3 linked regions of the Homo sapiens genome follow. The protein of the gene in region 3 interacts with the protein of the main gene of each other region in a pairwise test. Each region holds a gene or a part of one and is shown on either strand. Other genes may lie near its edges.

Region 1 (7,567 bases), on a different chromosome or scaffold from region 3:
CGGAGCTACACGCCCTCCAGGTGACCGGCCAGGAGACGGTCTCCCAGGTCGCGGCTCAGGCAGCGCCACTGGAGGGCTTCGCCCCGGAAGATCTATCGTGCTCCTGGCAGGCGCGTCCCTGCAGGGCGAGGCCACCCTGGACCAGGGCGAAGTGGGAGGCCCCGACTGCCCGGGAGGCCAAGTCCGTGGTTCCCCGGCCCGCGCTGGGAAAGTGACAGGTCAGACTCTTGCTAAGGTGGCCAAGCGAGAAGACAGGCCGGGCTGAGCCGCGGGTGCGGTACCACCGGCGCTTTGTCGACGTTGTGCCCATCTTTGGCAAGAAGAAGGGCCCCAATGTCCTTCTTAAGTCCTTTGTAATTCTGGCTTTCTCTATTAAAAAAGCCACTTAGCTCGAAAACTTTTTTCTCAGAAAAATGTTTTTGTTTTTATTATTTTATTAACTTATTTATTTATTTTTGAGACCGAATCTCTGTCGCCCAGGCTGGAGCACAGTGGCACGATCTCAGCTCACTGCAACCTCCGCCTCCCGGGTTCAACCGACTCTCCTGCCTCAGCCTCCCGAGTAGCTGGGACTACAGGCGCGTGAAACCACACCCAGCTAATTTTTTGTATTTTTAGTAGAGACGGGGTTTCACCGTGTTGGCCACACTGATCTGGAACTCCTGACCTCAGGTTATCTGCCCGCCTCAGCCTCAGTGCTGGGATTACAGGTGTGACCCACCGTGCCTGGCTTGTTTTTATTATTTTAAATGAATAACTATAAAATGCAGTTTTAAATTTCTAATACAGTAAACATAGATATTAACGCTCATAAACAAAAGCTTATTGGGATCTTCGTCAATAATGAGTGCAAAGGAGTACTGATTCCAAAAAGTTGAGAATCTTGGCCTGAAAAGGCATATTCCCCACAAATAGGACTGTGAATGAATGCATCCATAATTTTGATATGTTTTGTCAGTTTCCCAAGCACAAAAGTTGTACAATTTTGCACTCCAAGCAACAAATTAAAAAGATGTTAAACTTTTGGATCATTGCCCACTGGCTGGGTGAGAAATAGTGTATTCATATATTTTCAACTTCCATCTGTTATATTATTAATATGTCTAAGCCTTTTATTTTCATATGCTAAAAAACCATTTTCACTTCTTTTGCTGTGAAGTCTATGTTCAAGCCTCTCTCTCAGTTTATTCCATCAGGTTTGGCCTTTTTGGAGGGAGGGGTCAATTTTAAGAGAGAGCTATAGATCCAAGTTCCTGTAAATTGTGTGAGTTGCAAATACTTTCTCCCTCCTTCCTTGTTTTTGATGCTCTCATCCTTTCTTCTGCTTAGGTCTTTGAAATCCCTGCTGGTTTCCCGTGTCTTAGGTCCCTGAACATGTCCGAGATGACTCCACTGAGTCACCAAAACAAAGAAATTCACCAACTCAAATTTTTCCTTGAGCTCTCAGCAGCAGTTAACATAGCTGACCACACCCTTCTTCCTAGAATGTTTTCTTCTCTCATCTGTCTGCAGCTGACATTCCTCTAACTTGTCTGGTCTTGTTCTCCGTGGCCTTTTCTGGTCCCACATCCTCTGAACCTCTCAATCTTGGGGTGCTTCAAGGTTGAGTTCTGGTCTCCCAGTCCTGGTCTCTCCCTAGGTAATCTTACTCGTTTCTGAAGATTTAAGTTCCATTCTCCGATTTCAATCTCCTGCCCAATTCCCAACATTTTTGCAATAGAATGTCTAAGGAGCACTCAAAATTAACATATCTAAAGCCGCTCAGGATCTCAACCCAGTGGCTCTCTTCCCCCAAACTCATTCCTTTAGAGCCACAGTTTAAGCCTTCCTTTCACCAATTCAACTATTGTTTTCCAAATTTATATTCTGTCCTGCCCTCCTCGTCCATCTCCAGCTCCTCTCTGCTCAACCACCAGAATACTATTTTAAAACCAAAACCAAGTGAGCAGGTTTGTGGTCACTTTCTATGGCATTAGAGTAAGATCGAAGTGGGTAATAACCCCGTCCTATACAATCTGGCCTCCTGCCTTCTTCTGATCTCTCTATAGCTTTCCCCCATCACTGTCAATCTAGCTGCCTCTAATTCATCACAGCCCTTCCCCCTTCCGTGGCCAACAGAGCTCTTCTCTCATATTTTTGCAATTCCAGCTGCCTCTTCTTTCTTCTCTTCAGTTCTCAGCTCAAATGTCTTCCCAAGAGAGACCTTTCCATCACTACTCAATTTGAAATACCTTCCCACTACTCATCTCCTTATTTTATTTTCTTAGTAGCGAAAAGATTTTATCTTTCTATGAACAAGTTTACTTGTGGGTCACTCTCCATCCATAAGAAACTAAGTCCTTGAGATGCCCTGTGTCTACATCTGACATACTCGATGCACAATAAATATTGTAAACGATATTTTATGTTAAACCAGTAAAAATTGAAGGTGTAATGAGAGAGGGACAGAGACTAAATATTTTTACAGAAACAGCAAAGGAAAATTGACGAATTAAGTCCCCAGCATGTTGTCTACCCTTATTTTGTTTTTCCTAATATTTTTCTTCAGGCTTTTTCCTGATAACACACAGATACACACACACACACATAGATTCTAAGATCAAGTTTAGAAATCTAAAGAAACAATTATTAAGAAAATGATCTATAGAGAAAATCTCACTTACTTTCTTTGTAGCAATCCTGGGTATTTCCTTTTTTTTTTTTTTTTTTTTTTTTGAGACAGGGTCTTGCTCTGTCACCCAGGCTGGAATGCAGTGGCGCAATCTCGGCTCACTACAGCCTCGAGCTCCCAGGCTCAAGTGATTCTCCCACCTTGACCTCCTGAGTAGCTGGGATTACAGGCGCTGCACGACCACACCCGGCTAATTTTTGTATTTTTTGTAGAGACGGGGTTTCAGTATTTTTCCCAGGCTGGTCTTGAACTCCTGGGCTCAAGCAATCTGCCTGCTTCAGCCTCCCAAAGTACTGGGATTACAGGAATGAGTCACCACACCGAACCAAGGTATTTCCTTTAGGGAAAAAGCTGGAACAGTGGAGACTGAAGAGATTTTATCTGTTCAATTCCTCCCTCAGCCCCGCCCTCACACCATCAGGAAGGCGTCTGTGAAGTTTCTTATCATATTCACACAATTAATCTCATTAGAACCACCTGAGTTTATTAAAACGCAAGCCTCTTCACAGGGTCTCTGATTCCAGAAATCTACGGTGGGGTCCGTAATTTACATTTTTAATGGACTCCCAGAAAATGCTTAATAGCCCTGACCTTGGTTGGATAAATATCTTGTTTTATCTCCAGTGCCATGTACAGTGCCTAACACCTCTAGCTCCTTAAGGTTTGGGGTTTTCTTTCTTAATGAATCTAGTGTATATTGACAATTTCACAGGAAAGAAGCCTTCGAGCTAACACTCAAGACTGTGTTTGTTCCTTAGTAGAAAATAATGCCTGACTTGTTAGTTTCTAGAACGTTTGCTGGAGAAGTGTTCATTCCAGTATCTGTGGAAAGAAAAACCAAGAGTAGGGATAACTGCCTATGGAATCTGTCACAGATGGGAGGTCAGGGAACAATCCCAGATAATTCATACTTGATATTTGGCTTCAGTGAGGAGGAACTCTTCACAGCTTTCTAAGTTTTATAGTTTTGTCCCCGAGGGTTTTTATTGCATCAGTCAGTCAATCCCCTGCTAATCAAACCAGGGAGTTTTTTTCTTTATGCTGCTGACAGGATAATGAGAATTCTTCTGCTTTGCTTATCTGATCTTTCAGAACCTGGTTCTACCTTATGGAATCTCAATACACCGTTTCTCTTTTTCTTTTTTCTTTCTTTTTTTTTTTTTTTAGATGAGAGTCTCACTCTGTTGCCTAGGCTGGAGTGCGGTGGAGCGATCTCGGCTCACTGCAGCCTCCGCCTCCCAGGTTCAAGCAATTTTCCCACTTCAGCCTCCCGAGTAGCTGGGATTATAGGCGCCCACCACACCCAGCTAATTTTTGTATTTTTAGTGGAGATGGGGTTTCACCATGTTGGCCAGGCTGGTCTCAAACTCCTGACCTCAGGTGACCCACCCTCCTTGGCCTCCAAAAGTTCTGGCCACCGCGCCTGGCCATACACCCTTTCTCTTATCTCAGATGATTACCTACACCCACTCTCTTTTCCAAAACCCAATTCCCCAGCTTTCTTCAAATAGACCACATTTATTCCTGTGCCCCCTCCCCTCCTCAGCCAGTCCATCCTCCTTTACTTCTCTTATTTTTCTAATCCAATCTTCCTTTCTCTTCTAAGCCTGGGTACGGCCAACGTCTGTGAAGATACTCACACATACTTGTTGTCAGATACTCTGTCATTTACTCTCACCATCCCTTGAGCTTTCATAACTCTTGAGCTTACTCATCTTGACAAGAAAACTTTGTAATCTTTGAATCAAATGGAAAATAAACATCAAGCATATTGTCAGGTTTTGAAGTCTCTTAAAGCCTGTTTTAGAGTATTAAATGCTTAAATAAATACTTATTAAAGCCTGTTTTACTATTAAATAAATATTTATTAATAATTAAATTATTAATTCTAGAAGAGTCAATATTTTAAGATAATTCTAAAAACATTACAAAAAAGTGTGCTAAACCCTTATTTACTGTTACATGCCCCACCTGTTGCATGCTCCAACCCCGTGAGGTACATCTGCAGCTGATGAAGTAGATGACGTAGAGATTAAGTCACGGGATTAAGTAATTGACCAAGAGCACTGGGTGCAGAAAATTGAAGATATGGAATTTGAATCGGGTGCCAAATTTCATGATATTTCCTTATTATAATTATTTGTCCTTATTAAATATTAATCAAATGGCTTGACAATTTACAAAAAAGATGCCTCAAATTTGTATGACAATTTATCACGAGATGCTTTCATAGGGCTAGAGTAATCACATTACAAGGAACACAGATCATTTTAAGGTAGTTAGATTTTTCATAGGAAAACTTTTCATTAAAATGAAAATCCTGAAGAAATGTAGTTTTTTTTCACTGTCAAAGAACAAATACAATTATGAATGAGTGAGTCATTGTTCTCCTGAGTCATTTCATGAACTTATAACAGTCGTATCCCAGCCGGGCACTCTGGCTCATGCCTGTATCCCCAGCACTTTGGGTGACCGAGGCGGGTGGATCACTTGAGGTCAGGAGTTCGAGACCAGCCTGGCCAACATGGGAAACCTCATCTCTACTAAAAATACAAAAATTAGCCGGAAATTGCTTGAACCCAGGAGGCGGAAGCTGTAGTGAGCCAAGATCGTGCCACTGCACTCCAGCCTGGGCAACAGAGCAAGACTCGGTCTCAAAAAACCAGGACAAAACAAAAACAGTCCTGTCCCCTTTGTTAGCCACATCACCTTCACCACTCGCCCCAGGCTGGCATACTCTCGGCTTCTGGGTGGGATGAGTATGGCTGGTGCCAAACAAGGCTGTATTTGTTACTTTGGACCAAATCTGCGGCAGGAGACTACCACCTCCTCCCATTCCAGAAAAGAACAGCTGGAGGCGGGGGTGTGCTGGTTGTGGTCCCAGTGTTATCACTCATCTGGAAGGTGTGGCTTCTCTCTGGCTCCTTTTCTCCAAGGCTGCTCCATTAGAAGCAGGGGCTTGGCTCTCACTGGTTTACTTCCCACAGCTCTAAGAGGTCCAGAAGTCATGTTCAACTGCTTCTTCCTTGCTTAAGAAAGCATTAAAACTTAAGAATCAGGCCAGGCGCAGTGGCTCACGCCTGTAATCCCAGCACTTTGAGAAGCCGAGGCAGGCGGATCACCTGAGTTCCGGAGTTCGAGACCAGCCTGATCAACATGGAGAAACCCCGTCTCTACTAAAAATACAAAATTAGCCGGGCGTGGGCGCATGCCCAGCTACTCAGGAGGCTGAGGCAGGAGAATCACTTGAACCCAGGAGGTGGAGGTTGCAGTGAGCCGAGATCGCGCCACTGCACTCCAGCCTGGGCAACAAGAGCAAAGCTCTGTCTCAAAAAAAAAAAAAAAAAATTAAGAGTCAAACATTATGGGGGCCGGGCACTGTGGCTCATGCCTGTAATCCCAGCACTTTGGGAGGCCGAGGCAGTTGGATCACAAGGTCAAGAGATCAAGACCATCCTGGCCAACATGGTGAAACCTTGTCTCTACTAAAAATATAAAAATTAGCTGGGCATGGTGGCGGGCACCTGTAATCCCAGCTACTTGGGAGGCTGAGGCAGGAGAATCGTTTGAACCCGGTAGGCAGAGGTTGCAGTGAGCCGAGATCACAGCCACTGCACTCCAGCCTGGGCGACAGAGCAAGACTCTGTTTCAAAAAAAAAAAAAAAAAAGAATCAAACATTATGGTCGACCTCATGATAGCACAGTTACCCATTTGTTGTTGTAAGTCAGTGCATGCTTATCTGAACCCAACATGTTCAGTTTGCTTGCACTCTTTTGTAAGGAAGATAATCCTCCTAACAATTCCAGCAGAATTAAGAGGTCACCTTCACCTCACCTATTACAACACCGGGACAAGCCCTATCGGTTTTCACCAGACAGAATACCCTCAGCAAAAGGAACGGGCTGGTTTAACTGAAATCAGTGAATCCTGAGCAAATAAACTTCGGATTTTTGCCAAAGTTCACAGGCTGAGGAAAGCATCATGTCTCATGGATGAAGTTAGACTGACGTGGGCTCTGATTCCAGCTTGGCCACACACTTGTCATGACCTGCAGCAAGCCACTGAACGCTGAGCATCACTTGCACCATGAGTCACCGTCACCATCTTCCACAAGTCTCTGAGCATTAGGAGAGGTTCGATGAAATACACGTAGGAGCGAGGAGGGTGGTAATGAGAACAGAAATTGCTCTCTGAATGAGTATGCTTCCTCTCCTCACCCAGAGTCATTCTTTTCAGCAAAGTCAAGAGCACGGCCCTCTACATAAGGGAGAGTGCAGCCGGGAAGGTGATGGAGGTGGTAGAGATGAATTATTGGCATATGGGAAATAAAGAGATCTTTGATGCCCTTTTCAGTTTCTTTTGTTTAATAATATATATATTAGTAATGTAGTAATTGCGTAATTGATATCAAGGCATATATTCAGCTTTTATTAATGTAATGTTTATCTGAAAACTTTTAGGCCACTGGTATAATTTTTTTTTTTTTGATACTGAGTCTTGCTCTGTCACTCAGGTTGGAGTGCAGTGGCACGATCTCAGCTCACTGCAACCTCCGCCTCCTGGGTTCAAGTGATTCTCCCACCTCAGCCTCCCGAGTAGCTGAGACTACAGGTGTGTGCCACCATGCCCAGCTAATTTTTGTATTTTTAATAGAGACAGGGTTTCACCATATTGGCTAGGATTGTCTCGATCTCCTGACCTCGTGATCGACCCACCTTGTCCTCCCAAGGTGCTGGGATTACAGGTGTGAGCCACCGTGCCCGGCCACTGGTATAAATTTTTAGGAAGAATTTTTTTCTGTTCCATTATAGTCAGTTTCAACAATAAAGCCTCATTGTCAAGATATTAAAATCGCTGGGCATGGTGGCGCCCACCTGTAGTTCCAGCTACTTGGG
Region 2 (7,024 bases), on a different chromosome or scaffold from region 3:
GTAGCTGGGACTACAGTCGCGCGCCACTACGCCCAGCTAATTTTTGTATATATATTTTTTAGTATAGACGGGGTTTCATTACGTTGGCCAGGCTGGTCTCGAAATCCTGACCTCAGGTGATCCACTTACCTCGGCTTCCCAAAGTGTTGGGATTACAGGTGTGAGCCACGGCGTACAGCCGAGTACCTAACTCTTTTGCAAGATAAGCAGTCTTAGGGGATACCAGATGGCTACAAGTTCCCTCATACCTAGCACAGCCCAGGAAAAAAAAAACAAAAGCCCCTTATTCATAATGTAGCTTCCCCGATCTCCAGCCAATCAGCACCAAAAGCCCAAGAAGCTATTAGCTACAAATTCCTGCCTTGGAGGGAGCTAAGGACTTCTCGGGGTTCCGCATACACAGCTAGGCTCAAGGTTTAGCTTATAGCAACATTTTCCTCGTTTTGATGGTAAAAAAACACACCCCTAGGTAGAGATTGTATATGCTAATGTTACATGTGATGCGTGTTGGAGCATGCAGATGCTGAGCGCATGCGCCCACCACAGGTCCACCTTTGCATACCTGACCTCACCAGTATTTTGTGACTAGGTATAAACAACTTCCATAAAAGGAATTCCTCTTAAGGCACAAGCTGCCGTCTCTCCCTCTGAGCAGTCCTCAGGGTGGGCTTTTTTTTTTTTTTTTGAGATGGAGTTTTTGCTCTGTCGCCCAGGCTGGAGTGTAGTGGCTCAATTTCGGCTCACTGCAACCTCCATCTCCCGGGTTCAAGCAATTCTCCTGCCTCAGCCTCCCGAATAGCTAGGATTACAGGTATGTGCCACCGCACCTGGCTACTTTTTGTATTTTTAGTAGAGATGAGGTTTCACCATGTTGGTCAGGGTGGCCTTTGCTTTGCAATAAACTTTTTCTTTTGTGCGGCCAAGGGAAGAACCTGACCTGGCCCACCAGCAGCAATACTCCCTGCTTCACGGACCTGTTAGGAGTCCAAAAACGTTTGCCCACAAATCTGCTTATTAGGAAAATGGTCACGGCCAGGTGCAGTGTCTCACACCTGTAATCCCAGCACTTTGGGAGGCTGAGGCGGGTGGATCACGAGGTCAGGAGATCGAGACTATCCTGGCTAACACGGTGAAACCCCGTCTCTACTAAAAATACAAAAAAAAAAAAAAATTAGCCGGGCGTGGTGGCGGGCGCCTGTAGTCTCAGCTACTCGGGAGACTGAGGCAGGAGAATGGCGTGAAGCTGGGAGGCGGAGATTGCAGTGAGCCGAGATCGCGCCACTGCACTCCAGCCTGGGCGACAGAGCGAGACTCCGTCTCAAAAAAAAAAAAAAAGGAAAATGGTCACAATATAGGAAGAGAACAAAACGCGACTCTTCAGCTGACTGTGAACAATGGTTGTCTCCCAGAGTGGGGTCACACGGCTGTTCACCTTCTCCAGGCATTATTTCTGTAATCTTTGAAATTTTATAACAAGCATGTCTGGCATTGGAAATCAGAAAATGAAGATTTGAAAGTGTGATCATACATGTAGAATATTTTAACCTTGACCATTCAACAGCTGCAGAGATTGTCATTATTAACTGGGTGGCCTTCGACAGACCCCTTCTCCCCATGCCTCAGCGTCCTTATCTGGAAACGCGGTGAAGTGGCCTGGTTAGCCCCAGGGAAGGCGAGGGCTGGTGCTCCTCGGTCCTGTAGACTGAGACCTGACACGGCCTCCCTGCCCTCTCCCAACCAGGCCTCCCGAAGCCCAGGCTCCCTACCTCAGCTCCTCCAGCTTGCGCTGGGCCGCCCCAGGGCCCCGGCTCCCTCTGGGTGCGTAGGCTGCCAGGCAGTGGGCCACCTGCCGCTGTACATGCTGTGTCCGGGCCCGCCGCAGCTCGGCCTGCTGCCGCTCCTCCTGCCGCTGCCGCTCCCAGGCCTGCAGCAGGCTCCTTGGGTGAGAAAGGGAAGGGGAATGAGAGGTTCACGGGCAGCAGGAGCCTCACGGAGGGCCAGGGGCTGGATAAGGGAATATGGAAGCCTGTGGGGAGGGGCTGCAGTGTCCAGAGCCAGTGTCCTGGGAGTAGGGTTTGTCATGGAAGTCCATGACAGAGACTGCCCTGGAGGCTCAGCCCTCGGTCCCAGCTCAAGGCCTTTCCCTACTCTTTCTAGAAGTCTCCTGCTTCCAGGCCAGGCACGGTGGTTCATGCCTGTAATCCCAGCACTTTGGGAGGTGGAGGCAGGCGGATCACCTGAGGTCAGGAGTTTGAGACCAGCTTGGTCATCATGGTGAAACCCTGTTTCTACTAAAAATGCCAAAATTAGCCAGGCGTGGTGGCATATGCCTGTAATCCCAGCCACTCAGTAGGCTGAGGTGGGAGAATTGTTTGAACCAGGGAAGCAGAGGTTGTAGTGAGCCGAGACCACGCCATTGTACTCCAGCCTGGGCAACAAGAGCAAAACTCCATCTCAAAAAAAAAAAAAAAAAGAAAGAAAGAAAAAAGAAATGAAGGGTGCTTTGGAAGAATTAATATTGTTAAAATGTCCATATTATCCAAAGCAATTTACAGATTCAATGCAAGCCTATCAAAATTCCAATGACATTTTTCACAGAAATAGAAAAAACAATTTTAAATTAATATAGAACCACAAAATACTCCAAACAGCAAAAGCAATCTTGAGCCAAAAAAAAAGGCCAGGCATGGTGGCTCACACCTGTAACCCCAGCACTTTGGGGCTGATGCAGGTGGATCGCTTGAGCCCAGGAGTTTGAGACCAGCTTGAGCAACATGGTATATATACACAATGGTATATATTGTGTATATATTGTGTATAAAAGGTGGTCTATATATACAATGGCATTCTTCAGCCTTAAACCCCATCTGTACTGAACATACAAAAAATTAGCCAGGCATGGTGGACCAGACCTGTAGTCCTAGCTACTCGGGAGGTTAAGGTGGGAGAATCACCTGAGCCCAGGAAGTCAAGACTGCAGTGAGCCATGATTGAGCCACTGCATTCCAGCCTGGGTGACAGATTGAGACTCTGCCACACACACACAGACACATACACACACACACACCACACACACACACACACACAAAAGAAAGCTTAACGACACTTGTCTGGGCAATGGTTTTTTGGCTATGACCCAGAAAGCACAGGCAACAAAAGCTAAAATAGACAAATGAAGTTGCATCAAACTGAAAAGCTTCTGCACAGCAATGGCAACAATCAACAGAGATGACATACAGAATGGGAGAAAATATTTGCAAACCATACATCTGAAAAGGGGTTAATATCCAAAATATGTGAACTCAAGTAACTCAGTAACAAGAAAGCAAATAACTCAAAAAATGGGCAAAGGCCAGGCGCGACGGCTGTTGCCTGAAATCCCAGCACTTTGGGAGGCCAAGGCGGGCAGATCATTTGAGGTCTGGAGTTCGAGACTAGTCTGGCCAACATGGTGAAACCCTGTCTCTACTAAAAAAATACAAAAAAATTAGGCAGACCTCGTGATGTACGTCTGTAATCCCAGCTACTCAGGAGGCTGAGGCAAGAGAATCACTTGAACCTGGGAGGGGGAGGTTGCAGTGAGCCAAGATTATGCCACTGCACTCCATCCTGGGTGACGAAGTGAGGCTCCATCTCAAAAAAAAAAAAAAGGCAAAGAGTCAGGGCATGGTGACTCACACCTGTAATCTCAACACTTTGGGAGGTGGAGGCAGCAGGATCACCTGAAGCCAGGGGTTGAGACCAGCCTGGGCCACATAGCAAGACACCTATCTCTACAAATAAAAAGTTAAAAAATAAATCAGCTGGATGTGGTGGCATGCACCTGTAATCCCAGCTACTCAGGAGGCTGAGGTGAGAGGGTCACTTGTGCCCAGGAATTCAAAGCTGCAGTGAGCTATGATCGTGGCACTGCACTCTAGCCTGGGCGACAGAGCGAGACTCCATCTCAAAATAATAATAATAATAATAATAATAATAATAATAAAATAAGCAAATAACCCAAATAGACATTTCTCAAAAAAAGACATACAAATGTCTTTTTCATCACTAATCACTAATCATCTGGGAAATGCAAAATAAAATGATAATAAGATATCACCTCACGCCTGTTAGAATGACTATTACCAAAATGATGAAAGATAAGGGTTGGTGATGATGTGGAGAAAAGGGAATCTCTGTTTACTGTTGGTGGGAATATAAATTAGTACAGTCATTATAGAAAACAATATCAAGGTTCCCCAAAAAATTACAAGTAGAACTACTATGTGATCCAGCAACCCACTTCTGGGTACATATTCAAAGGAAATGAAATTAGTATGTTGAAGAGGTAGCTGTACTCCTATGTTCATTGCAGGAATATTCACAGTAGCAAAGATATGAGATCAACCTAAGATTCCATCAACAGAAGAATGGATAAAGAAAAGGTGGTATATATACACAATGGCATTCTTCAGCCTTAAAAAGAAGAAAATCCCATCATTTGCAACAACATGCATAAACCTGGAGGACACTATGTTAAGTGAAATAAGCCAGGCACAGGAAAACAAATACCATATAATCTCCCTTATGTGCCAAATCTTAAAAAAGTCAAACTCAGCATAATGGGACCCCATCTCTACCAAAATTTTAAAAATTAGCCAGCAGCCAGGTGTGGTGGCTCACGCCTGTAATCCCAGCACCTTGGGAGGCTGAGGCGGGTGGATCACGAGGTCAGGATAGCGAGACCATCCTGGCTAACACAGTGAAACCCCATCTCTACTAAAAATACAAAAACTTAGCTGGGTGTGGTGGCGGGTGCCTGTAGTCCCAGCTACTCAGGAGGCTGAGGCAGGAGAATGGCGTGAACCCGGGAGGCGGAGCTTGCAGTGAGCTGAGATCGCGCCACTGCACTCCAGCCTGGGCAACAGTGAGACAAGACTCCATCTCAGAAAAAAAAAAAAAAATTAGCCAGGCATGGTGGCTCATGACTGCAGTCCTAGAGCTCAGGAGGCTGAAGTGGGAGGATCACTTGAGCCCTGGAAGTCAAGGATGCAGTGAGCCATGATTGTGCCACTGCACTGCAGCCTGGGCAACACAGCAAGACCCTGTCTCTAAATAAATAAATAAATAAATAAAGTCAAACTCATAGAAGCAGAGAGTAGAATGGTGGTTACCAAGTCCTCACTGGGTTTGTGGGGAGAAGAAGGGAGATGTTGGTCAAAGGATAAGAAATTTCAGTTAGAGAGGAGAAATAAGTTCAAGAGATCTATTGTATGATCTGGTGTCTGTAGTTAAAAGCAATGTATTGTATACTTAAAAATCAATAAAAGAGTAGATTTTAAGTGTTCTCACTACAAAAAAAAAAATCAAGTAAGACCGGGAGTGGTGGCTCACGCCTGTGATCCCCGCACTTTGGGAGGCTGAGGCGGGCAGATCATGAGGTCTGGAGTTCGAAACCAGCCTGGCCAATATGGTGAAACCCCATCTCTATTAAAAATACAAAAATTAGCCAGGTGTGGTGGCAGGCACCGGTAATCCCAGCCATTTGGGATGCTGAGGCATGAGAATTGCTTGAACCCTGGAGACGGAGGTTGCAGTGAACTGAGATCACACCACAGCACTCCAGCCTGGGAACAGAGCAAGACTCTGTCTCAAAAAAAAAAAAAAAAAAAAACCGAGGTAATGCATATGTTAATTAGTTTGATTTAGACCTTCAACAATATAAACATATTTCAAAACCTCATGTTGTACACCATAAATACAATTTTTATTTATCAATTACATAAAATAAATTTTAAAAAAAGAATTGTGGCTGGGCGCAGTGGCTCATGCCTATAATCCCAGCACTTTGGGAGGCCGAGGCGGGCAGATCACGAGGTCAGGAGTTCAAGACCAGCCTGGCCAACATAGTAAAACCCCGTCTGTACTAAAAATACAAAAATTAGCCAGGCGTGGTGGTGGGCTCCTGTAGTCCCAGCTACTTGGGAGGCTGAGGCAGGAGAATCACTTGAACCTGGGAGTCGGAGGTTGCAGTGAGCCAAGACTGTGCCACTGCACTCCAGCCTGGGCAACAGAGTGAGACTCCATCTCAAAAAAAAAAAAAATTGTGGGGTGCTATAAGAATGCTGAATGAACTCTCCCCTGCCCTCACATGCCTCCTGTCACCAGTCACCATGGCCTATTGAACCAGCCTCTAAGTGTCTCTTAAATGGATCCCCTCCCTCCATCCACAGGGCCTCTTGGTTCCTCACCTCAGTGTTGCCAACAGTCTCCTCACAGCCTCCAGTCTCCCCTTCAGCTCCCACTGTCTCCTTTGCTTTAGAAACAGAGGCTCGCTCTGTTGTCCAGACTAAAATTCAGTGATGTCATCATGGCTCACTGCAGCCTTGATCTCCTGGGCTCAAGAGATCCTCCTGACTCAGCCTCTGGAGTAGCTGGGGCTACAGACACTTTCCACCAAGCCAGGCTAATCTTTTTTTTTTCCTTTGTAGAGACAGGGGTCTAGCTATGTTGACCAGGCTGGGTTTTTTGTTCGTTTGTTTGTTCGTTTGAGACAGAGTCTCACTCTGTCACCCAGGCTGGAGTGCAGTGCTGCAATCTCAGCTCACTGCAACCTCCGCCTCCCAGGTTCAAGTGATTCTCATGTCTCAGCCTCCTGAGTAGCTGGGACTCCAGGCACACACCACCATACTTGGATAATTTTTTATATTTTCAGTAGAGACAGGGTTTCGCCATGTTGCCCAGGCTGGTCTCGAACTCTTGAGCTCAGACAATCCACACGCCTTGGCCTCCCAAAGTGCTAGGATTATAGGCGTGAGCCACCACGCCCGGCCCCTTAACTTCTTTTTTAGAGACAGTGTCTCACTCTGTTGCCCATGCTGAATGCAATGGTGGGATCATAGCTCACTGCAGTCTTGATCTCCTGAACTCAAGAGATCCTCCTACCTCAGCCTCCTGAGTAGCTGGGACTACAAGCACGTGTCACCATGCCCAGCTAATTCCAAGTCTTTTAATAGTTATATCCTAAGGGCCCATGAGTAGATAA
Region 3 (7,864 bases):
GTGCAACAGGTGTGCGCCATCATGCCCTGTTTATTTTTGTATTTTTAGTAGAGAGGGGGTTTCACCATGTTGGTCAGGCTGGTCTCGAAATCCTGATCTCATGATCTGCCTGCCTTGGCCTCCCAGAGTGCTGAGATTACAGGCATAAGCCACCGTGCCAGGCCTATTTTACTTTTTTAGAGACACAGTATCTCTCTGTTGCTCAGGCTGGAATCCAGTGGCATGATCATAGCTCACTGTGGCCTCCAACTCCTGGGTTCAAGGGATCCCCCTGCCTCGGCCTCCAGAGTAGCTGAGACTAAAGGCATGAGCCACTGCACCCAGCCAATTTTATTTGTATAGAATGCATATGGGGAGAAATATGTTAGCTAGAGTTATTCGTTTATGTAGAACATGTTCCTACCTCCTCGTGGTTCTTCCTCAGGTAGGCTAGCTCCTCGGTGAAACTCTCAATCTGCATCTCCAGGTCAGAGCGGGTCATAGTCAGGTCATCCAGGACTTTCCGCAGGCCATTGATGTCAGCCTCCACGCTCTGCCGGAGACACAGCTCGTTCTCATACCTGGAAGGGGCAGCAGTAAGGCAAAAAATACTGTGAGCTCACCTGGCCGTGTTTCAAAGGGTACCTTCCATTCTTACATATTGAAAAAGTTCTCACTTGTGGGCATTTTAATAAATAAAGGTTATTAAGTTTTCTCTTGGGAAATTTTCCCTTGTAAAGAAAAATACCAATGTAATGTTAATTCTAATCATGTCTAACATTTTTAATAATAAAATTCTCATTCTAAATTTGCCTCTTTCTTTTTTCTTTTTCTTTTTTCTTTTGCAGCTGTTGTAGGCTGATGAAAGGAGCAGAAGCGGCCGGTGTGTAGCTACTGGCTTAGGTGCTCAGCAGAGAGGATCTACCTGCCCCAGCATCAGTGGAGATTTGTCTAATGGTCTAAAGTTTACCCTTGGGATGTTTGTAAATTTAGGTCATGATCCTCTAGTATATATATATATATATATATATATATATATATATATATATATATATATATATATATTTATTTATAAAATGGAATAAAATTTATTTTTCTCCCGTAACACTTGTTTTCAAGTCTTTATGTTTCTTACTTCAGTCTGAAGTCATCAGCAGCCAATCTGGCATTGTCAATGTGCAAAATGATCCCAGCATTTTCAACAGTGGCAGCAATGATCTAAAAAAGATGTTAATAGTGAGTGAATCACGAATGATTTTTACCTTGTGTCTGCATGCCTACTTGTAAGGGTAGCTGTTGCCTGTGTTATTAGCTCTTTTTTTTGTGTGTGTGTAGAGACAGAGTCTCGCTCTGTCGCCCAGGCTGGAGTGCAGTGGCAAGATCTCAGCTCACTGCAACCTCCGCCTCCCATGTTTAAGCGATTCTTGAGCCTCAGCCTCCTGAGTAGCTGGGATTACAGGGGCGTGCCACTATGCCCGGCTAATTTTTTTTGTGTGTGTGTTTTTAGTAGACACGGGGTTTCACCATGTTGGCCAGGCTAATCTCAAATTCCTGACCTCAAGTGATTTGCCCGCCTCAGCCTCCTAAAGTGCTGGGATTACAGGTGTGAGCCACCGTGCCCGGCCTGTGCTATTAGCTTTTAAAGGTGACTTGCTTTGCAAACTTACTTAGTAATGACTAAGTATACAGCCCCAGACCTGTATATCTGGGGCTGGTATATTTAGGACTACATCTTTCTGCAAAAAGATAACAGTCTGCACATTTATTGGACTAGGCACAGGAACCTGTTTTACAGGACATAGTCCTCTGCATATTTCTGCTACTTTGTTAGATCATTATCTCATGAGCTTTTTCAGAAAATAGTGCAAAAATTGTATTTCACTTCCAAAAAAGTCTTTAAAAATATATTTCCCATACAAAAGTGGCTAAACATTTTAGATTCTACTACATTCTTATGTAATGTTTGCACCAGATTTTCTGGGAAGAAAAATAATACTAAAGAATATTTAAATCTTGTAAGACAATAAAATGTGTCAGTCTGTCAGAATTCATCATAAATAATTAGATTAAACTAATGTTGACTCACTGCCACCATTCTTATATATAAATGATAATTAGCTGCCTGGTGTTGTATAAGTTTTACTGTTATGTAGAAATACTGAAACTGAGATGGAAACAGAAAATTAATGTGATTGGACATCACATAAGGTACTATAATAATTAAGACACATCAGGTCCCACTTTGCATATGTAACAAGCAAATATGTTTTCAAATAATTTCTTAAAATTTTCATTATAGTACATGATCTGAAAAGAAGTGAAAGATCCACAAATAATAGAAACTCAGGCACAGATAGTCTCACCTGGTTTCTGAGATCTTCAATTATTGAATAGTATTTGCTATAATCTCTTCCCGATCCACCGTCTCCAGACCCAGGCCCATATTTGTCATACCACTCCTTGATTTTGTTCTCCAGATCAGTGTTAGCCTCCTCCAGGGCTCTGACCTTGTCTAGGTAATTGGCCAAGCGGTCATTGAGGTTCTGCATGGTTTGCTTTTCCCCTCCAGAGAAAAGCCCCCCATCGCCAACACCACCTCCCATACCACCACCATAGCTGTAGAAGCCTCCAGTAGCACCACTGCTGAATCTAGAACTCCCACAGAATCCAGAACCCCTGCCAAATCCAGAGACCCCGCCAAAGCTAGAACCCCCACCAAATCCTGTCCCAGAGCCTGAAGCTCCCCCAAAACCACCCCCTACTGAGCAGCTACCAAAGCCCCCTCCAAAGCTGCCCCCAAAAGCACCGCTAGACCCCCCACTCAGGCTGCAGCTGCTGGCTCCTCCTCGGAAGCCCTGGGCCGAGCTGCCCCCCAGACCACATCTGCTTCCACTGCTGAAGCTGCTTCCACCAGCAGACACCCTGGCTGAGCTGCTGCCTCCAGCCCTGGAGGAGGAGGCGCGAGACGAGCAAGACATGGTGCTCCTGCAAACATGAGCTTGTCCAGGCGAATAGGAGAGGTGATGACGAAGAGTGTATTCAAGGCTGCCTTTTTGGCCTTTATATACACACTTCGAGGGTGTTCCTTTTCTCTGTCACTTCTTAATCCCTGTTACAGTTTTGGTAATCCGTAATTGGATAATTTCTGTTTCTTGAACACTTCTCTGAAGCTAGGTCAGAGCCCTGGGACATTTACTATATCAATAAAAAAAGAATAAAGTGGAGCAAAACAAAAAAATTTTCAGAATTACAGTTTTAATCTTTCAGAGGTTTTGATGATTGGTAACTTTTCTCTGGAAGTGTAGTTCTATTAAATTTGCTTCATGATTTCACATTTGCAGAGAATATCTCCAGGTTAACAAATGTAATTAAAATACTTAATATGATGAGAATAAAAATTTCCCATCAATCATGTAACTTTTTTGTTCATATTGTTCTCAAAAGTTGAAATTAGCTTTCACATCAGCAATAATTTCAGATTTGATTAAGCATCCATCTCTTTGATTATTTCAATCAGCGTGTTTTTTAAGGTTGTTGAAGTTTGTGATTTTAAGTTATTGCTTTCTTTTTTTGTATTTTGTATAATATACAAAAAAGCATATAATTTGTAACAATTATGTTTTATAGTTCATAAGAAAAACATAAATAATAGTTTTCTAGGTAAGTATTATTACATCTCAGCAACATGTTTATTCAAGTAGCTAATGTCTAAGAAAGATTGAAAAGCTTTTAGGCAGATTGTTTTAATACGATTTTCTTTCTGGTTGAATTCTAGTCTGATATAAAGACAGCAACTTCCTTTTTGAGTCAAATTTCAAGAAATGAAGAGATGATGCAGATATCTCCTGCCTTCGTTTTAAAGATAAAAGAGGATTTGTATCTACTTCTGATAACTAGTGTTACAATTGGAGTTATTTTATAGATTCTGAACCCTCCTGAGCTCCCTTTGTGCTTCATGGCTTTTTGTCCCTTTGTATTTTAGACTGTTTCCATTCATGTCTTCTAGTCACTTCACCGGTTTAATAGTGTCTTTTTGAAAGACAGATACTGTATAATTCCAGTACTATGAGGTGCCTAGAGTAGTCAAATTCACAGAGACAGAAAGTAGAATGGTAGTTGCCAGTGGCCGAAGGGTTGGGGATAGACAGTTGTTGCTTACTGGGCATAGAATTTTAATTTTGCAATATGAAAAGAGTTTGGGGCCAGGCGTGGTGGCTCACACCTGTAATCCCAGCTCTTTGGGAGGCCGAGGCAGGTGGATCACCTGAGGTCAGGAGTTCGAGACCAGCCTGGCCAAGATGGTGAAATCCCGTCTCTACTAAAAATACAAAAAATTAGCCAGGCATGGTGGCAGGCGCCTGAAATCCTAGCTACTTGGGAGGCTGAGGCAGAGAATTGCTTGAACCCGGGAGGCAGAGGTTGCAGTGAGCCAAGATTGTGCCACTGGACTCCAGCCTCAGAGACAGAGTGAGACTCGTCTAAAAAAAAAAAAAAGAAAAGAGTTTGGGAGATTGGTTGCACAACAATGTCAGTACACTTAAGACTACTGAACTGTAAACTTATAAATGATGAAGATGATAAGTTTATGTTATATGTATTTTACCACAATTTTTAAAAAGTCTTAAAAAACAGGTGCTTCCAGAAATAGTTTGTATCCTCCTTAGCTTTAAACTTAAGTAGCTGACTTTTGTTTATTTAAGAATTTCTTCCTTCTTTTGCCAGTCTCTGTTAAACTATGTTCACACCTTAATCTTTATATTCAATTATTTGTTAAACAATGTTCTGCTTTAAATTTTTCCTTAAATTGCATTTTATTGGGACACATGATTAAATAGGTAATCATTCACTTTACTATGTAGCTCTTATGTGGCTTTTATGATCTACCTGTACTGTTTTCACAGGAGTATGATGTTACTCTTCTTCATATTTAGGGTGACATATCTCCAAGGGGTACATGGTGTACAAAATTTTAAATTGTTAAGCTGGGAGTAATTTTTATAACGCCCTTCTAAAGTAGCTAAAAAATGCACCACACATAATGTGTTGGTCATCCTGCCTCGCCCATCCCTAAAGCTGTGAAACCAAAGAAAACTAAACCCTAATGATTAAATGGTATGCAAATGCTGGCAATGGGAGGAACAGTCACAGAGTGTTTCTCCCTTTTAAAACTATGAAATGTAATCTTTCAATTTTCATAAAGACTTGCATTTGGCTGAAAGCACGTTTAAATCCCAGCTCCTTCGGAGGCTGAAGCAGGAGAATTGCTTGAACCCGGTGGGTGGAGCTTACAGTGAGCAGAGATTGTGCCACTGCACTCCAGCCTGGGCGACAGTGCGAGACTCCATCTCAAAAAAAAAAAAAAAAAAAAGACAGAGAGAGAGAGACAGACTGAATCTTAGGTGTCTGGGCTCCCAGTTCAAATTTTGAATAGTTTGTGATTAGAAGTTTATTTCTACCTGTAAAGAAACATATAAAAGCTATATTTCCTTATAGAATATGATTTTAATAATAAGTGCAGAATGATTTGCAGATAGTAACCATCAATTTTTTTTTGTGTGTGTGGGGGATAGATTATTAGTATTTAAATATTTTTCAGATTAACATATTGCAGGTTTTTAGACTAGTAGGAAAACCAAATACTGAAATGCATGGCATATGGCTCCTGATGAATCTTTACAGAATTGAGAACAGAACTTGGGTATTCTATCTTCTGTTCATTCAAGAAAATATACTGTTTTGTGTTTTTCAAATAGAAGCATCACATCAGAGTAGTTAAGGGAAGTTGCTGGGTTTAGAGTATTTGTTGAATGTTGACAAAACTTTCTGTGGCAGACAGTAAAAAAGAAGGGAAAATATACATTTAAAAAAATTTTAACTTTTAACTTTTGTGGGTGCATAGTAGGTATATAGATTTATGGGGTACATAAGATATTTTGATATAGGTGTACATATCCCATCAGGGTAAATGGGGTACCCATCACCTCCAGCACTTATCCTTTGTGTTACAAACATTCCAATTATACTATTTTTTAGTTATTATAAATTATACAAGTAAATTATTATTGACTATAGTCACTCTGTTATACTATGAAACACTAGGTCTTATTCATTTTTCTAACTATTTTTGGTACCCATCAAGCGTCCTCACTTTTCCCCTACTCCCCCGTTTCCCTTCCCAGCCTCTGATAACCATCATTCTACTCTCTATCTTCATGAGTTCAATTGTTTGAATTTTTAGCTCCCACAAGTAAGTGAGAATACACAAAGTTTGTCTTTTTGTGCTTGGCGTATTTCACTTAACATAATGACCTCCAGTTTCATCCACGTTGTTGCAAATGACAAGATCTCATTCTTTTCATGACTGAATAGTACTCCGTTGTGTATATGTGCCACTTTTTTTTTTTTTTAAGACAGGTTTCACTCTCGTCACCCAGACTTGAGTGCAATGGCGCGATCTCGGCTCACTGCAACCTCCACCTCCTGTGTTCAAGCGATTCTCCTGCCTCAGCCTCCCGAGTAGCTGGGATTACAGGCACCCACCACCATGACCAGCTAATTTTCATATTTTCAGTAGAGACAGGGTTTCACCATGTTGGCCAGGCTGATCTTGAACTCCTGACCTCGTGATCCGCCCTCCTTGGCTTCCCAAAGTGCTGGGATTACAGGCATGAGCCACCGCGCCTGACCTGTGCCACTTTTTCTTTATCCATTCTACTGTTGATGGATGCTTAGGTTGCTTCTAAATCTTGTCAGTAGTGCTGTAATAAACATGGGAGCACAGACATCTCTTTAATATAGCAATTTTCTTTCTTTTGGACACATTGGAAAGTATAAATTTGATGTGTGAACAGTCTCTTTGCAATGCCGTTGCAATGACAGATAGTAGATAGACAATAAATATTCCTTGAATTAATAAAAACTAACATGGCCTGATTTTCTTCATGAACAACTTGGATCACTGATTACTTTTGTTCTTTACTATGTGTTGTGTTTTGTTTTCTGAATCTTTATGCTCCACTTCTGGGTTAGTGATTCTCAGTGTGTGGTGGCGGAGAGCGGGGCTTGGCAGTAAGAGGAAATGTTGTTTGGGAAGAGGGCAGAAAGGTCAGGCAAGAGTCAACCGGGGACCTTCCTGTAGGGAATCATTGTTTGGGCCAGCTTCCTGCTGGTGGCTGCTCTAGGCCCCGCCAGGGTCAACTACTTGGAAGAGAAAAAAGGTTTTGCAATAATAACATGACTAAGAGCCCACTCCAGTAGATCTGGCACCACCCGTCGATGGATTGGGTGTGTCATTGTCACACCCCAGAAATCCACCAATTCTGTGGCTGTTTCTCTTCCTTCATCACTTTCTCTCCTTCCCCACCACCCTCGTCCATTCTTTCTCTTCCTGGTTTCACTTAAGTGTGTCTATTTGAAGGCTTCCTCTTCTCCACCAGGAAGCATCTGCTTGGTCATGCCATTTTGCCAAATTTTGTTCTGGGAAGAAAAATCACCTGGCTTTGTTCTTGTATGTGAGTGCTTTCAAATCTCTTTAAATAACTCAATTCTCTATGTTTCCTGAAGATCTTTCCGTGAGTTTATGGAGAATTAAGAGAATGGGTGAGTGACTTTGCGGGGGTTGGGATGCTTTGTCCTCCAGGCTCCACAGATAAGACAGTTTGAAATAAGCACAGTTTTCAAGGATTAGCTCTGCTTAAAAAGTCCTTTTGTGCCTTTCTTCATACCAGACAGACAGTAGTCTTCTCTTCAGAGAATCCAAAAGCATGAACAATCCAGATCATAACTTGAGCAGTAGGGCCTAGCCCCTGTGCCTCTTGCCAATGCTAAGTTGATACACTGGGCCTTCCTGCTCTGTCTCTTCCAGCTTGACCCCTCAACCTCCTGC

What was found.
Region 1: the proteins of KRT24 (region 3) and TRIML2 interact in binary tests that used the Homo sapiens proteins (3 or more experiments, as listed by UniProt).
Region 2: the proteins of KRT24 (region 3) and TSGA10IP interact in binary tests that used the Homo sapiens proteins (3 or more experiments, as listed by UniProt).

What each region holds. Positions count from the first base shown.
Region 1 is NC_000004.12:188,106,580-188,114,146, forward strand, and holds the start of TRIML2 (probable E3 ubiquitin-protein ligase TRIML2), read right to left. Parts: upstream 3,025-7,567; 5' UTR 2,664-3,024; intron 1-2,663.
Region 2 is NC_000011.10:65,948,480-65,955,503, reverse strand, and holds part of TSGA10IP (testis-specific protein 10-interacting protein), read right to left. Parts: intron 1,938-7,024; coding exon 1,767-1,937; intron 1-1,766.
Region 3 is NC_000017.11:40,700,737-40,708,600, forward strand, and holds the start of KRT24 (keratin, type I cytoskeletal 24), read right to left. Parts: upstream 3,017-7,864; 5' UTR 2,958-3,016; coding exon 2,343-2,957; intron 1,198-2,342; coding exon 1,115-1,197; intron 561-1,114; coding exon 404-560; intron 1-403.